Linked DNA regions of Homo sapiens: all the other regions are linked to region 2. The links come from fine-mapping of genetic effects on gene expression. A gene starts in region 2. Each other region holds a variant in brackets. All regions are shown on one strand. Distances are between the middles of the regions. Region 1 overlaps HEPHL1 (hephaestin like 1). Region 2 holds the start of GPR83 (G protein-coupled receptor 83). Region 3 holds the start of IZUMO1R (IZUMO1 receptor, JUNO).

Region 1 (5,865 bases), 300 kb after region 2:
TTTTATGTGGGATTATAGTAAGGGTTGAATAAGATAATGTATCTAAAAGTGTTTACTTCAGTGCACTGATACACCATAAGTACTTGGTAAATGCTTTTTTACTACTGAGAAATCATCTCCAGGAAAAGCCATATCCACATGATATGGTGACTTTCAGTTGTAATCCCCCTGTGTATAACCTTTGATAAGTCTGAAATTATTCATTATCTGGTAAATGGATGACAATAATAATGAAGATCCAATGAAATAATGTGTGTAAAAGGAATCTGAAAGAGTAGAGGGAAATAAAATCATTTATGTATTAATTTATGATTAATATAGTGACTTCACAAATGCACATCTAACTCTGTTTCTCAATATTTGTTTACCCAAGGAGACAAGCACTCTTCAGCCCCTCTGGTGTGTGCATTTCTGTTGGAAGCAACCAGGCTGGGTGCCAATGGAGATGAGCCCACACCTGGCTCAGAGGGCCTGTGGCAGCATGACTTGTGCACTGCTTCATGGTCAGTAGACTCCCATTTCAGAAGTGCCTGATCCCTATGGCTCTCTCTTGGGTATCTGGTGCATTCTACATTCACAGGGAGATACACTGACAGTTGGTGGTCTGGCCACACATATCAATTCCTTGCTGATTCAAGCCATGGTTTTAATTGCTTTTCTGAGAAAGGTATATATAAATCTAAAATTTGTTGGACGGTTATTATTTTCAATTTTCTCTCAATTTCTTAAAATATTCTTAGGGGGTAGTTCCAAGATGGATGAATAGGAACAGCTCCAGTCTACAGCTCCCAGTGTGAGCGACGCAGAAGACAGGTGATTTCTGCATTTCCAACTGAGGTACCGGGTTCATCTCACTGCGGCTTGTCAGACAGTGGGGGCAGGACAGTGGGTGCAGCCCACCGAGCGTGAGCCGAAGCAGGGAGAGGCATCGCCTTACCTGGGAAGCACAAGGGGTCAGGGAATTCCCTTTCCGACCAAGGGAAGCTGTGACAGATGGCACCTGGAAAATCGGGTCACTCCTACCCTAATACTGCGCTTTTCCAATGGTCTTAGCAAACGGCACACCAGGAGATTATAGCCGGTGCCTGGCTCAGATGGACCCACACCCAAGGAGCCTCACTCATTGCTAGCACAGCAGTCTGAGATCAAACTGCAAGGTGGCAGTGAGGCTGGGGGAGGGGCGCCCACCATTGCTAAGGCTTGAGTAGGTAAACAAAGCGGCTGGGAAGCTCGAACTGGGTGGAGCCCACCGCAGCTCGAGGAGGCCTGCCTGCCTCTGTAGACTCCACCCCTGGGGGCAAGGCATAGCCGAACAAAAGGCAGCAGAAACCTCTGCAGACGTAAATGTCCCTGTCTGACAGCTTTGAAGAGAGTAGTGGTTCTCCCAGCACAGAGTTTGAGATCTGAGAATGGTCAGACTGCCTCCTCAAGTGGGTCCCTGACACCCAAGTAGCCTAACTGGGAGTCACCCTCCAGTAGGGGCAGACTGACACCTCACACGGCCAGGCACCCCTCTGAGATGAAGCTTCCAGAAGAAGGATCAGGCAGCAACATTTGCTGTTCAGAAATATTCGCTGTTCTGCAGCCTCCGCTGCTGATATCCAGGCAAACAGGGTCCAGAGTGGACCTCCAGCAAACTCCAACAGACCTGCAGCTGAGGGCCCTGACTGTTAGAAGGAAAACTAACAAACAGAGAGCAAATCCACACCAAAACCCCATCTGTACATCACCATCATCAAAGACCAAAGGTAGATAAAACCACAAAGATGGGGAAAAAACAGAGCAGAAAAGCTGAAAATTCTAAAAATCAGAGTGCCTCTCCCCCACCAAAGGAACGCAGCTCCTAGCCAGCAACAGAACAAAGCTGGATGGAGAATGACTTTGACGAGTTGAGAGAAGAAGGCTTCAGACGATCAGACTTCTCCAAGCTAAAGGAGGATGTTCGAACCCATCGCAAAGAAGCTAAAAACCTTGAAAAAAGATTAGATGAATGGCTAACTAGAATAACCAGTGTAGAGAAGTCCTTAAATGACCTGATAGAGCTGAAAACCATGGCACGAGAACTACATAATGAATGCACAAGCTTCAGTAGCCGATTCGATCAACTGGAAGAAAGGGTATCAGTGATTGAAGATCAAATGAATGAAATGAAGTGAGAAGAGAAGTTTAGAGAAAAAAGAGTAAAAAGAAACGAACAAAGCCTCCAAGAAATATAGGACTATGTGAAAAGACCAAATCTGCGTCTGACTGGTGTACCTGAAAGTGACGAGGAGAATGGAATCAAGTTGGAAAACACTCTGCAGGATATTATCCAGGAGAACTTCCCCAACCTAGCAAGGCAGGCCAACATTCAGATTCAGGAAATACAGAGAATGCCACAAAGATACTCCTCGAGAAGAGCAACTACAAGACACATAATTGTCAGATTCACCAAAGCTGAAATGAAGGAAAAAATGTTATGGGCAGCCAGAGAGAAAGGTCGGGTTACCCACAAAGGGAAGCCCATCAGACTAACAGCGGATCTCTCAGCAGAAACTCTACAAGCCAGAAGAGAGTGGGGGCCAATATTCAACATACTTAAAGAAAAGAATTTTCAACTCAGAATTTCATATCCAGCCAAACTAAGCTTCATAAGTGGAGAAATAAAATCCTTTACAGACAAGCAAATGCTGAGAGATTTTGTCACCACCAGGCCTGCATTACAAGAGCTCCTGAAGGAAGCACTAAACATGGAAAGGAACAATCAGTACCAGCCACTGCAAAAACATGCCAAATTGTAAAGATCATCGATGCTAGGAAGAAACTGCATCAACTAATGAGTGAAATAACCAGCTAACATCATAATGACAGGATCAAATTCACACATAACAATATTAACCTTAAATGTAAATGGGTGAAATGTTCCAATTAAAAGACAAAGACTGGCAAATTGGATAAAGAGTCAAGACCCATC[A/G]GTGTGCTGTATTCAGGAGGCCCATCTCACGTGCAGAGACACACACAGGCTCAGAATAAAGGGATGAAGGAAGATCTACTAAGCAAATGGAAAACAAAAAGGCAGGGGTTGCAATCCTAGTCTCTGATAAAACAGACTTTAAACCAACAAAGGTCAGAAGAGACAAAGAAGGCCATTACATACTGGTAAAGGGATCAATTCAACAAGAAGAGCTAACTAACCTAAATATATATACACCCAATACAGGAGCACCCAGATTCATAAAGCAAGTCCTTAGAGACCTACAAAGAGATTTAGACTCCCACACAATAATAATGGGAGACTTTAACACCCCACTGTCAACATTAGACAGATCAATGAGACAGAAAGTTAACAAGGATATCCAGGAATTGAACTCAGCTCTGCACCAAGCAGAGCTGATAGACACCTACAGAACTCTCTACCCCAAATCAGCAGAATAAACATTCTTCTCAGCACCACATCGCACTTATTCCAAAACTGACCACATAGTTGGAAGTAAAGCACTACTGAGCAAATGTAAAAGAACAGAAATTATAACAAACTGTCTCTCAGACCACAGTGCAATCAAACTAGAACTCAGGATTAAGGAACTCACTCAAAATCACTCAACTGCATGGAAACTGAACAACCTGCTCCTGAATGACTACTGGGTACATAACAAAATGAAGGCAGAAATCGATGTTCTTTGAAACCAATGAGAACAAAGACACAACATACCAGAATCTCTGGGACACATTTAAAGCAGTGTGTAGAGGGAAATTTATAGCACTAAATGCCCACAAGAGAAAGCAGGAAAGATCTAAAATTGACACACTAACAGCACAATTAAAATAACAAGATAAGCAAGAGCAAACACATTCAAAAGCTAGCAGAAGGCAAGAAATAACTAAGATCAGAGCAGAACTGAAGGAGAGAGAGACACAAAAAACCCTTCAAAAAATCAATGAATCCAGGAGCTGGTTTTTTGAAAAGATCAACAAAATTGACAGACTGCCAGCAAGACTATCAAAGAAGAAGAGAGAGAAGAATCAAATAGGCGCAATAAAAAATGATAAAGGGGATATCATCACTGATCCCACAGAAATACAAACTACCATCAGAGAATACTATAAACACCTCTATGCAAATAAACTAGAAAATCTAGAAGAAATGGATAAATTCCTCGACACATACACCCTCCCAAGACTAAACCAGGAAGAAGTTGAATTACTGAATAGACCAATAACGTGTTCTGAAATTGAGGCAATAATTAATAGCCTACCAAACAAAAAAAGTCCAGGACCAGACATATTTACAGCCGAATTCTACCAGAGGTACAAGGAGGAGCTGGTACCATTCCTTCTGAAACTATTCCAATCAATAGAAAAAGAGGGAATCCTCCCTAACTCATTTTATGAGGCCAGCATCATCCTGATACCAAAGCCTGGCAGACACAACCAAAAAAGAGACTTTTAGACCAATATCCCTAATGAACATTGATGCAAAAATCCTCAATAAAATACTGGCAAACGAATCCAGCAGCACATCAAAAAGTTTATCCACCATGATCAAGTGGGCTTCATCCCTGGGATGCAAGACTGGTTCAACATAATGCAAATCAATAAACGTAATCCATCACATAAACAGAACCAAAGACAAAAACCACGTGATTATCTCAATAGCTGCAGAACAGACCTTAGAAAAAATTCAACAGCGCTTCATGCTAAAAACTCTCAATAAATTAGGTATTCATGGGATGTATCTCAAAATAATAAGAGCTATCTATGACAAACCGACAGCCAATATCATACTGAATGGGCAAAAACTGGAAGCATTCCCTTTGAAAACTGGCACAAGACAGGGATGCCCTCTCTCACCACTTCTGTTCAACATAGTGTTGGAAGTTCTGGCCAGGTCAATTAGGCAGGAGAAAGAAATAAAGGGTATTCAATTAGGAATAGAGGAAGTCAAATTGTCCCTGTTTGCAGATGACATGGTTGTATATTTAGAAAACCCCATTGTCTCAGCCCAAAATCTCCTTAAGCTGATAAGCAACTTCAGCAAAGTCTCAGGATACAAAATCAATGTGCAAAAATCACAAGCATTCTTATACACCAATAACAGACAAACAGAGAGCTAAATCATGAACTCCCATTCACAATTGCTTCAAAGACAATAAAATACCTAGGAATCCAACTTACAAGGGATGTGAAGGACCTCTTCAAGGAGAACTACAAACCACTGCTCAACAAAATAAAAGAGGACACAAACAAACAGAAGAATATTCCATGCTCATGGATAGGAAGAATCAATATCATGAAAATGGCCATACTGCCATTTCCCAATGGCCATACTGCCATTGCCCAAGGTAATTTATAGATTCAATGCCATCCCCATCAAGCTACCAATGACTTTCTTCACAGAATTGGAAAAAACTACTTTAAAGTTCATATGGAACCAAAAAAGAGCCCACATTGCCAAGTCAATCCTAAGCCAAAAGAACTAAGCTGGAGGCATCATGCTACCTGACTTCAAACTGTACTACAAGGCTGTAGTAGCCAAAACAGCATGGTACTGGTACCAAAACAAAGATATAGACCAATGGAACAGAACAGAGCCCTCAGAAATAATACCACACATCTACAACCATCTGATCTTTGACAAACCTGACAAAAACAAGAAATGAGGAAAGATTCCCTATTTAATAAATGGTGCTGGGAAAACTGGCTAGCCATATGTAGAAAGCTGAAACTGGATCCCTTCCTTACACCTTATACAAAAATTAATTCAAGATTGATTAAAGACTTAAATGTTAGACCTAAAACCATAAAAACCCTAGAAGAAAACCTAGGCAATACTACTCAGGACATAGGTATGGGCAAGGACTTCATGTCTAAAACACCAAAAGCAAT
Region 2 (5,865 bases):
AGGAATATACTTACTATTTGGCACAAACTGACTATTCAGTGTCTTTGGTTTTATTTGTAATGTACAAAAACAAGAGGTTGGTTCACTGTAAGAGCTGCTTGTATCTTCCTGTAACCACTTAGTAAGAGCAACAGTGATTTACAGTGATTTACCATAACGCCTCTGAGAAAAGAACTACTTTTAATAACTCAGCCTTCGTGTGAGGTAAGGTGAAGGGATATTCTTGTTTCATTAAAGACTGTGACTTCGGCCGGGCACAGTGGCTCACGCCTGTAATCCCAGCACTTTGGGAGGCCGAAGCGGGTGGATCACGAGGCGGGTGGATCACGAGGTCAGGAGATCGAGACCATCCTGGCTAACACAGTGAAACCCCGTCTCTACAAAAAAATAGAAAAAATTAGCTAGGTGTGGTGGCAGGCGCCTGTAGTCCCAGCTCCTTGGGAGGCTGAGACAGGAGAATGGCGTGAACCCAGGAGGCGGAGCTTGCAGTGAGCCGACATCACGCCACTGCACTCCAGCCTGGGTGACAGAGCGAGACTCTGTCTCAAAGACTGTGACTTCAGGAGTTCAGGATAAGTTTGGGACAGTGGTGCTGGGCTAAGAGGAGGGCTTGGCAGGGCTCAGGAGGCCCAGGCCTGGCTGAGTGGAGAGCTGAATGCCTGGGGAAGAGGAAGAGGAAGTGATTCCAGACCTCATGCCTACCCTTGGATTTTCTCAGGACCGCCTCCCCCTTCAGAGCACACCAGTGCAACTTGCAACTGCCAGCAGTAGCATTTATTTGCCTGAGCCCTTGTTTTGCCTCTGGAGCCCATTTTGGCTATCCACATGGCAGGCCAGAAGTTCAGGAGCATCCTGGGAGAAGGAGCAGACCCCTGGGAGAAGCCTTCAACCAGTGACTAACAGGAGGTGGAGTACAGATACCACAGCTCTGTCACCCCTTGGCTTGGATAGCTGATGTGTACACCTTACACTGGCTTCCCAGCAGGCTTCAGCTTGTCACCCACAGTGGTAGCTGGCTTGACAAAACTCTATTGGTTGCTTTCCCTTTCTTGTCACACTTCTCCACTTCCCTATTGGTGTTTGCCTTCATCTCCCAAATGAACCCTCTCACTAGAGTATTTGTCACAGGAGATGCTTTTGGGGAAAGCTAAGAACTAAAACACCTCACCTCTTTCAGAAAGAAAGTTTCAGGCTTCTGGTGTAAATGCCCTCACACTTACAAGGTGGGCATGATGAGCAGGGAATCAAAGTGAAGACATTAGTTAGGTGGCCCAGATTACAAATATGCCGGCTAGCAAGCACCTTCTGTGGTACTTGGAAGAGAGTGCTTGGAAGGGCACTGGCTACCTTTGATTTCTTTCTCTGAGCTTGACGCTGACTATTCCTCTTCTATCCATACACTCTTTGTTGACACTGGGCACAGTCAATTGACTAGGATTCTGTTTTCTAAATGACCATCATATTCCGGCCTTGCCTCTCAAGATGATGCCAGGTCATCTTGATGGAGCAGCAAGTCTACCTAAGCTTTTTTCTTTTTGAGACGGAGTCTCGCTCTGTCGCCCAGGCTGGAGTGCAGTGGCGCGATCTCGGCTCACTGCAAGCTCCGCCTCCCGGGTTCACGCCATTCTCCTGCCTCAGCCTCCTGAGTAGCTGGGACTACAGGCGCTTGCCACCACGCCCAGCTAATTTTTTGTATTTTTAGTAGAGATGGGGTTTCACCGTGTTAGCCAGGATGGTCTCGGTCTCCTACCTCGTGGATCCGCCCGCCTCGACCTCCCAAAGTGCTGGGATTGCAGGCGTGAGCCACCGCGCCCGGCCCCCAAGCTTTCAGTGTTTACAGGCAGTCTCTTGGTTTATTTCCTGGAGCTAAAGATGTATTATTTCATCGGCCTAGCACCTTGTCCCTTCTAGGATCTGTCACATAATCCCCTATTTCAGCCATTTAATCCTGTGAGACCTGCCAGGTCCTTCAGTATAATTGAGGGTTATCTGCTAGCCATCCTTTCCTCCAGACACAGTTGCTTGAAGAGTACATGTGAAGTGGAAAACTGGAGACAAGAGTAATACCTAGGTTTGAGTCATTGTTTGGGTCCCAGCCCAAGGACATTGCTCCCCAGGGCACGTTGACACAATGTAAAGAATCTACATGGTGTTTCCTGTTGGGGGTCAGGGGTGGTTACCAGTAGTCAACCAGATATTGCATGTCTTGCACCAGAGGGCAATGCAGTGAGAGATGTATACAGGGGTCTCTGAAAACCTCACATTTAGGAAAAGAAAGCCTTTTAACCAAGGCCAAAAATGTTAAATGGCTTGCCCAAGATTTCACAGCTAGGAAGTGACAAAGCTGGGATTAAACCCTAATTACAGAGCCCATGGTCTTTACTACAGGCTTGTGGGTGGCAGAGGACCCAGTGACTGGGAGAGTTTTCACAGTGGAAGTGAAAACGGGTGAGCAGGATAGCAAGGTTTCCTGAAGAAGTAGATGGGGAAGGAAAAACAGCATGGGTCATAATATCCCTTAAAGATATAGCTTCAAGGACTTCCATGGCAGAAAAATTCAAGTTACCCAAGAGGTGAGCACACAGCTAAACTTCTCTTTTCCTTCGCTTCTTTGATGGTATCCGAACTGCTTTGAAGAGTTTCCTTGAAAAACAAAGCTCCCCAGATTGCATTCCTGGGGGCTGTCAAAGAAACTGTAATCCTTTAATAAGCCCTCCAGCACCTCTGGTATCTGGATACTCCGGGGACTTGGAGAATCCTTAACGTCTCTATTTTTTGGTTTGCCTTTTTCCTGGGACCGCCGGGACGCAGCGATCCATTTCGATATTGAAACTGTGCCAAGGCTAAGGCTTAGGTGGAAACAAATGGAATATATCCTTGTCACTGACCCGGCTTTGCCAGCATGCCCCCTCATCATCCCAAGTGCCCCTGTGGGCTTCCTCCCACCTGCCTGCCCTGCTTCCTTTACAAGAGGCTAAGCCGACACCACGCGAGTGTGTACGCGCTGGGGACTGAGCCCCCGAAGCGAAGCCCTGTCGGAGGAGTTTCAGGCGGGAGTGGGAACGGCTGGGCGTGGGGTCAGCAACGGCGCCACCCGGTAGGGTGGGGGGAGCCAGGCTTGTCAGAGCCAGAGCGCGTCACCGTCGCCGCGAGAGACGCCGCGCTGCCCAATAGGCAGAGGCGCTCCCTAGCAGCCTGGTGGGAGCAGAGATATAAAAGTGCTCCAACAAACCCGGAGCTGGCGTGCCGACCGCGGGCTGGTGGCGGGCGGCGCGGTGCTCCGCGCGTCCGGGCTCCCTGGCTCCTCGGGACGGCCTTGTATGCTGTGCGCCCCGCACCCCGGCTGCGCGCTCCGATCCCAGCGGGAGGGGACGCCCGGCCCGCAGGCTCCCAGGGGAGGGGTGGCTCCTGCAAAATGGTCCCTCACCTCTTGCTGCTCTGTCTCCTCCCCTTGGTGCGAGCCACCGAGCCCCACGAGGGCCGGGCCGACGAGCAGAGCGCGGAGGCGGCCCTGGCCGTGCCCAATGCCTCGCACTTCTTCTCTTGGAACAACTACACCTTCTCCGACTGGCAGAACTTTGTGGGCAGGAGGCGCTACGGCGCTGAGTCCCAGAACCCCACGGTGAAAGCCCTGCTCATTGTGGCTTACTCCTTCATCATTGTCTTCTCACTCTTTGGCAACGTCCTGGTCTGTCATGTCATCTTCAAGAACCAGCGAATGCACTCGGCCACCAGCCTCTTCATCGTCAACCTGGCAGTTGCCGACATAATGATCACGCTGCTCAACACCCCCTTCACTTTGGTAAGGGGCCCGCTGCCTGCCGCCCCACCTTCTGTCTTCGTCTCCCTTTCCTCTCTCAGTTCTCTGGCCTCCCTCTGCCGTTCTGCGTCTCCCTGTGGGTCCCCACTTCTCTCTCCACATCTCTCTTCCTCCTCATTTCTCCTCTCCTCTGCCTCTGTCTTCCTGTCCTAGTCTCTTTTCTCCCTCCTCTGTCATCTCGGTTCTTGTATCTCTCCTGTTTTTCTTAGTCTTTCTTTCAGTCTCTGTCTCTCTCTCTGAAGTCTTTCTGTCTCTCTTCTCTATCTCTCAGTGTCCTCATCTTTTTTTTTTTTTTTGTCTTTCAGCCTCCCTATTCATCTGTCTCTGTCTCCTCACCTGTTATCTCTTTTTCTTCTTGTCAGTCTCTCTGTGATTTTATTTTTCTATTCTCTCTCCTCTCCTCTCCTCTCCCCACCTCTCCTCTCTTCCTCTCTCCCCTGCCTCACTCTCTGATTTCTCCCCACTTTTTTCTGTCTCATCGCCTTATCAGCCAGAGCTTCTGCGGCGGTGGCATTGGGTCAATGGTTTGAGTGTCTGCAGCCAGCTGGAAATGAATGACCATTTCCTGTTTAATCTCACTGGGTCTGGGCTTGCTTGATAATTGAGCAGTAAATCAATGCCCCTGAAATGTCAGCAGAGATGATCAGGTCCCCCTCCCTCTGAATTGCAGCCTGTTCAGTGCCCAGCCGTACCCATGGGATACTGCTTTGTGCTACAACTGAAATATCAAACAATTGCTAATTGTTAATGGAACATTAAGTGCATTTTCCCAGACCACTTATTTAAAGTGCATTTCCCTTCTGTGGGTTGATAATGAGGCTGTGTTTGAGGTCTGTGTTGAGGAAGAAATGAGGGGAGGTGGGCTTGGGCCCCAGAAATCGGGCAGGCTGGGGGCATTTGCACATTGGCAGCTGATGGGATTCTTCCCCAAGCCCTGGCTACTTAGCGCTGGTGGTGTCCCGCTGTGACCGGGGAGTGTGGCTCTCATGGATGATTTGGGACTGTAAGGGCGATGACTGAGCAACCATAGTGACAGTTATACTGCATGTTTCTCTAGTGTGTTATATTTTTTCATTTTATGGAATAACTTTGTCATTTGAGTGATTACTAAAGCAATATCTATTAATCCCTCTCTGTCTGTCTCCTTGCCATCTCTCATACACAACCAGATATAACAGACAAGCAAAAAACACAGGATGAACCCCCACAAGTCCATCACCTGTGTGAACATCCTTCCAAATCTTATATTGAAAAAGTACCCTCACATTCTCTTTCTCATCCTCACTTATTAGAATATTACTCACATTTTGCAGATGAGAAAACTAGGGCACAGAGAGGTTCAATCCCTTGTCCAAAGCCACCTGGCCAGTAGTTGGCAGAGCCAGGATGAGAATTCCATCCCCTAACTCAAATCCAGAGGTCGGTCCACTAACCAGCCAGCTGGGAGTGAAGGACACTCTTGGACCATGTTTAGCTTCTGCTACTCCAAACCCTGGACTTGTTCTGATCTCCTTTCAGCCTACGTCTAACGTATTGATGGCCACTTAATATCCCCTGGGCATTACCCAAGGATGAGTGGGCTTTCAAATACTCTCCTCCTCCCTGGGTGTCTCAAAGCACAAGACAACAGCATCCCTGTCACCCGTTGGCGCCTCCCTTGGTTTCTGACCTGAGAATCTACAGTGGTACGGTTGGGCTGTGCTACCTAGGTTGGGAACTGGGAAGCCACAGAACATGGCCTTTTTTGCTGCTGCCCAGAGCCAGGATACAGGGCTGGATCTGCAGCAGACACAAGAAGGGGTAGGGAGGCCATGGACGCGAGGACAGGCTACACCTGAGAGCTGGCAATACCTGCCCCAGAGGATCTCCTGCAAGAGACAGGATGCCAAGGTCCTCAGAGCCCAGCACCCCCTCCAGTATGAGCCAAAGCAGCTTAGCCTTGAACCTGACCCATCAAGCTGCCCCAATCCAAACTTGGATTACAGTTTATAAGGTGCTGGCAGGTAGGAAAGGGAGAAGGTTGTGGGGAGGGACTTCCAACCCCT
Region 3 (5,865 bases), 97 kb after region 2:
CACTCGGGGCCACCTGGGTGCAGTCATAGCCAGAGATTAGAACATTAATAGCAGAGATGTGAAGACTACTAATAGCTACAGTGGTATTTGTACCAGGTACCATATGTACATCATCTTCCATAAAGCCTCTAAGTGTTATTTTACAAATAATACCAATGAGGCTAAGAGATTTAATAGTTTGTCCTGGGCTATACAGCTGGTAGGGACAGAACATGAGACTGAAGCTCAGGTCTGTCAACTCCACCAAGCCTCCTGTGGTGATAGCCCCTCATCCCACTGTTGTCAGAACAGTCTCCCCCATGTGATTCTCCAGCAGGGGCCTCTGGCTCTGCTCTTGTCCATAGGGAAATAACACCTCCTGTTCCTACTAGCATCCTGGCGGCATCAGCATAAGATCGGGTGAAAGCTCTGGCTGTTAATATAATAACAGGGCATGGCACAGATCTGCTTCCTACCTCCCACCCCAGGCTTCCCACTGGCTGGATCCAGGGCCCCAGGTTTGGGGAGCACTCATAGAAGCAGATAGCCTGGATGAAGTGCTTCCGACAGCCAGGCATCAGCAGTCCACAGTGAAACAGGCTGAAGTTGTAGAGTGGGGATACATCCAGATGGGCTTCCCAGCTTGTCGTGAGGGTGCAGCAGGCATTGTCCTTCCAGGGGATGCACTGAAGGCAGAGGAAGAAACAAAAGGCCCAGGCAAAAGGGGCAAGGATCGGCAAGTGTCTAGGGAAGAAAGGTGGTGAAATGAAAATGTCCCTTAGGAGGCCTGAGCAAGTGGGATGCCTTTAGCTAGTAAGCCCCTACATAAGAGGAACCCTGATAATCTCTCAATATTTACCCAAAGGGCAGAGGCACCTGCACAATGACCCCCTGCCACAGGCTGCTACAGTCCTCTAGAAACACAACTTCTGGGCTCTCAGCTCCTGAGAGGCAGCAGAAGCCTTTTAGGGCAAAGCAGGTAGAAGAGCCCCAGAGAGACCCAGGGGAATCTGGGGTTGCATTGGGTGGGAGGGTCTCATAGGCCAAATGCCAGCTGTGTTCTTCCTCCCATATCCCTGGAAATTGCCTTTAGGAGCTTGGGGAGGGGTCACATAAGTCATATGTTGCCCCAGGACCTGTTGGCAGGAAGGCTTGTTTTCATCTGTGCCGAGTCAACAATGGATCTCTGGGATCACCAGCGGTCCCTGCTTTCCCAGTGGCTAGAGCAGCTCAGAAATGGGAACTTTGAATCGCTTGGCTCTTATGGTCTCAAAAAGGCATAGTCTCTTTCCATCTAGTTGCCTTTGCTTAACTCCTAACCCCAGGAACCAAATGATCAGGGTTGATGAGGTTCGGAGACCATCTTGGCATTTGTGTCCCTTCCCTGATCTTCCCCATCCCATACCCAGGTCTGGCCTCTGTACCTCCTCATAGAGCTTGTCTTCTGGGCTGGGCACTCTCTTGTGGTGTTTGGCATTCATGCAGATGTTGAGCAGCTCGTCCCCAGCCCAGGTGGGCATGACTGTCCACAGCTCTAGCAGGAGCGGCCACCAGCATGCCATGGCCTGCTACAGAGAGACCCATGCTGCACACTTGATGGAAATGACACCCCACTCCACCCCCTTCATCATAGCAGGCACTGGGAAAGGGGGATGGGCTTCAATCTCCCTCAAATAATTGCAACACTCTGGCTGCTCCTAGGACCTTCTTTTGGAGGCAGCATCACAGAATGTCAGGGCAGGTAGAATAATCCTTGGAGGCCTGACACAGTGCTGGAGGCCTTGCTGGCCCTGCAGAGCCAGGGGCATGCCGAGGCATGAGTCAGATAGGAGGAGCCTTCTACATCCAAAGCCTGATCCCCATCACAGGAATGAGGAGGAGGGCCCTTCCTATTTCCAACTCTGTTCTGGGTAGTAGTGGTAATGAGAGGTAGTGGAAAGAGAGACAAAACAAAGCAAAAGGCAGAGGGGCCCCAGGCCTCAAGCACCCAACCTCTTAGGACACAGGGCCCCTCACCTTCATAGCCCAGGAGCCCATGGCTCCCCCAGTCCCCCAAGTCTGGCAGGAGCCTGACCTGGACCCATCATGGTGAAACTGGAAACTTCTAGCCTACCCTGGTCTAAGAGCCTCAAACATCCTGGGGAAGAAGAGCCCAGCCCCCCTCTTCAGAGCCCAACCTCAAGTCCAAATCTAAGGCTGTTCTCTCTCCAGACAACCAGTTTCAAGCTCAGCCATGGCCTTGAATATTTTTAAAGAATCAGATCTGTTAGGTAAAAGGAGGAAAGATGCTGCCCCTTCCAGCACTCTCTTCATACTCACTTTCAAGGCAGGAGCCTTCAGGTGCTCCTGCTCCCTCCTCCCCCTGAGACTATGAGGCTGAGGGGAGTTCCATGTCCCGCCCATTTATTACCCAGTCTGATTTCTACTAGGTCCAGGTGCAGGAGGAGAACTCCACGTGGCTCTCATTAAACAGCATCTGTCTCACCCAGCTCTGCAGGCCTGTGGGTTCCGAGGAAGTTTGCTTCCTCAGAGAAACAGACCCCATCGTAGGCAAGATCCGGGGCTCTACAATAAGTTACCGGGTTCGGCTGTCAGCTCTGCTACTTACTAGCTGGCTGCCCTGGAGAAAATGACTCAAATTCTCTGTCAGTTTCTCTCTCTGTAAAGGAAGTTTTTATTATGGGATTGGAAAAATAAAGAGAAAGTTCATGAACAAAAACCTTGGCATTGTGCCTGGGATAGAGGAAGTCTTAATGGTTTTAAATTTTATTCTTTTATCCTCTCTCCACACGCCCCTCCTATGTTCTGTTCCGTAGCTCTACCTGCCCCTTCACTGTTAGCCAAGCATCAGCTCAGTCACCTGGTGGCTTTTCTGACAGTGTCCTCGCACAGCCCACAGGAACTATGGTCCCTGCTGGAGCACAGACCGAGGACACAGGATGCAGAGATGAAGTGTGGCCTTGGGGACCCAAGAATTTAAACATACAAACAAAGCCAAAGCAAACAAAACAAAGAAAGTCCCTCCATAACCCGCCAAGCAGCCTCCCTTAGCATACAGGAATCGTTGTCCTGTGAAATATTCTACAAGTGTTCTCAGCAGTGATCATATTTGCAAGACTATCCTTTTCAGCTAAGGAGAGATTGGAAACTTGG[A/G]TAGGATTCTTGGGAGAGTCCCAAAGATGATAAAAATGCTGGAAAAGGAGCATATTTCTTTGTTTTTATAATATGTCCTCTCTTTCTCTCTCTGAAAGAGAAGTAGCTGAAATCACTGAAGTTTTATTGATACAAAGGAAATGAAAACAAAACACTAAAAGCGTTTTTTTAATGGAATAAAATACATTCTGTGGTGTTCAGCTACAACTGATGTGTAAAGCATATACTAATGTTGGAAAATGACATTCTCCACACCTGGGTAATCACAGCCACTGAATGCTGAGCACAAACAAGGAGCCAGGCACTGGCCTGGTACTGTCTACAGGATCTGAGGTCTCAAAAAGACCTCCAATATGAACACCCTCCTTGTTTTAGCTGTGGGGAACTGAGGCTCAGCGGTGAGTAGCAGAGCTGGGATATAATTTCAGGTATTCTCGACTCCCTATCTAATGCTTAAGGACCAGGTGAGGGAGAAACCTCCGGGACTAAAAGAGTAGATACTGCCTGGGTGCCTGGGTCTCAAGTGAGGTCTGCTTTTTTTTTTTTTTTAACGTTAAATGCCATAATGAGGTTGTGCATGTATTGGGAGGCGTGTGTTGGCTTTATTCTAGAACAGTGACAGTTATTAACCCAGTCTCCCATGTCCCCACGTTAAGCAGAGCCTGGAGTCTCCTCCTTAGGGTCAGATACCAAATGGTAATAGCATCTCTATAGCCTGACAGAGGGAGAAGCAGGCTGTCATGTTCTGTTCAGTTCCTCATGAATATTCAGGAAGCTCCAAGCATTGATAAGGTAAGAGATTTGGGGTTTAAGGTTCAGTTTAAAATGGCTGTGGAGGTGCCAGAGCCGAGAATCCAGACATGAATCACAAGAGTAATTATTGAAATGGAAATAGGTCCTCTGACAACTGTCCTTCATAGGGTGTGAAGAAGGACGAAGGGCGGCTTGCTTGATAACAGTCTCCAGGACAAAGCTGTAGGAAATGAGCTAAAATTGCAGCCAGCGCATATGCAGGTGGAGGGAGGGAGGGAGGGAGGGAGGAAGGAATTACCCAGTGAGTGAGGCTGCCTTTCAGAGAACCATCAGGCCGGCCAGCATCTGCTCTCGGGAGATGCAGCTTGAGACCCTTGAGCAAAGCTCATTTTTGCCTTATTGTGACTGAGCCTTCCATAGCAATCTGTTTTCTGACTGAAAGCAGATAAGTCAAAGCTGACTGTAGATGAAGCAATTTGAAGTGGCTGATTCAAGACAATTTTTATTCTAAAACACACACACACACAACAAAACCAACACTTGCGTTTCCAAAAGAAGAGGTACAGCAGCCTTCAGCGGGCTCTGAGGGAGGACAAGGAGGGCAGGGCAGTAGGTGAAGCAACCCAGCCTTGGCTCTGGTTTGGGGCCACTGGAGATGCTGGGCAGTGATGACTTCCTTCCCCTCTCCCATCCTGAGGTCACTCCCCCACTGAATTTGAGAACAGACTACGAAAGTGAAGAGCTAGAGCCAGGAGTCTCCTGGTGAGAATCTGATGTCAGAGGCCAGCCGAAGGGGACTTCAGTGATTCAGAGTTCTTACTGGGTCTCATGAATTCTTCTCACCCCAAACCTGATTGACCATCCTCATGTAAACTCTTAATTGGTTTCTGTCTAGGGAGGTAAATAGGGATATTAATTTATTCTTCACTCTATGTCTATCCAATCGCCGAAGCTGTTGATTTAACTTTCTAAATATCTCTTGAATTCACATCCCTTACTTACTGTCTGGACCATGATCGGCTCTTGCCTCAGTTACTGCAACAACCTCCTAACTAGCTCTCCCACCCTTTTCCAGAGCTTTAATCAAGTAGCAGCCATAATGATCTAATTTCTCAGAATTTTTTTAAATTTGTATAAATTTAAGGGTATAAGTGCAGTTTGGTTACATGGATATATTGCACAGTGGTGAAGTCTGTGCTTTGTACATTGTACTCATTATGTAATTTCTTATACCTCACCCCCTCCCGCCCTTCTGAGTCTCCAACATCTATTATTCCATGCTCTATGTCCATGTGTACACATTATTTAGCTTCCACTTTTAAGTGAGAAAATGCAGTATTTGACTTTTTGTTTGAGTTGTTTTACTTAAGATAGTGGCTTCAGTTCCATCCATGTTACTGCAAAAGATACGATTTCATTCTTTTATATGGATGAATAGTGTATCATTGTATATATTTTACCACATTTACTTTATCCATTCATCTGTTAATGAACACTTAGGTTGATTCCAAATCTTTACTATTGTGAATAGTGCTGTAATAAACATAAGAATGCAGGTATATTTTTCATATAATTATTTCGTTTCTTTTATCAGTATTTTAATTATGAAAGTTTTCAAACATAAAGTTGAGATAATTTTATAGTGAACTCTCTCTCATATGCCCACCACTTAGATTTCACCATTACCATTTTATTATATTTTCTTTATTATATATTTAGCCAACCATCCTTCTCTCTATTCAGGTATCAGTCTTATTATTTTTTATGTATTTCAAAGTAAATTGCAGATATCAGTAAACTGATGTCTTCCTAAGTAATTCAAACATGCATATCATTAACTAGGGTTCAACATTTGTTTGCAGTCTTTGTTTTTCAGAATGATCTTTTAAAAATGTAAAGACAATTATGATGCTCCCATGTTTAAAACCTTTCTAGACCTTAAGGTAAGTCCCAGGTCCTTAACATGGCACACCAGCCCTT

The links. PIP is the estimated chance that this variant, and not a neighbour inherited with it, causes the effect. A credible set is the group of variants that fine-mapping cannot tell apart.
Region 1: its variant is the best candidate, but not a certain one, in a credible set for the expression of GPR83 in skeletal muscle (GTEx, PIP 0.73).
Region 3: its variant is the best candidate, but not a certain one, in a credible set for the expression of GPR83 in thyroid (GTEx, PIP 0.60).

What each region holds. Positions count from the first base shown.
Region 1 is chr11:94,095,035-94,100,899 of GRCh38, reverse strand. The region is part of intron 13 of HEPHL1 (hephaestin like 1); the gene reads right to left. Among named protein-coding and RNA genes, the nearest start is that of PANX1, 31 kb to the left of the region's middle. The variant A/G (reference allele first, on the strand shown) is at 2,954.
Region 2 is chr11:94,398,798-94,404,662 of GRCh38, reverse strand. It overlaps GPR83 (G protein-coupled receptor 83), which reads left to right and starts at 3,244. Exons shown (of 4, transcript NM_016540.4): 1 at 3,244-3,802. The coding sequence starts at 3,416.
Region 3 is chr11:94,301,313-94,307,177 of GRCh38, reverse strand. IZUMO1R (IZUMO1 receptor, JUNO) reads right to left here and starts at 2,598. Exons shown (of 5, transcript NM_001199206.4): 1 at 2,299-2,598; 2 at 1,404-1,547; 3 at 456-665; 4 at 1-13. The coding sequence starts at 1,541. The variant A/G (reference allele first, on the strand shown) is at 3,133.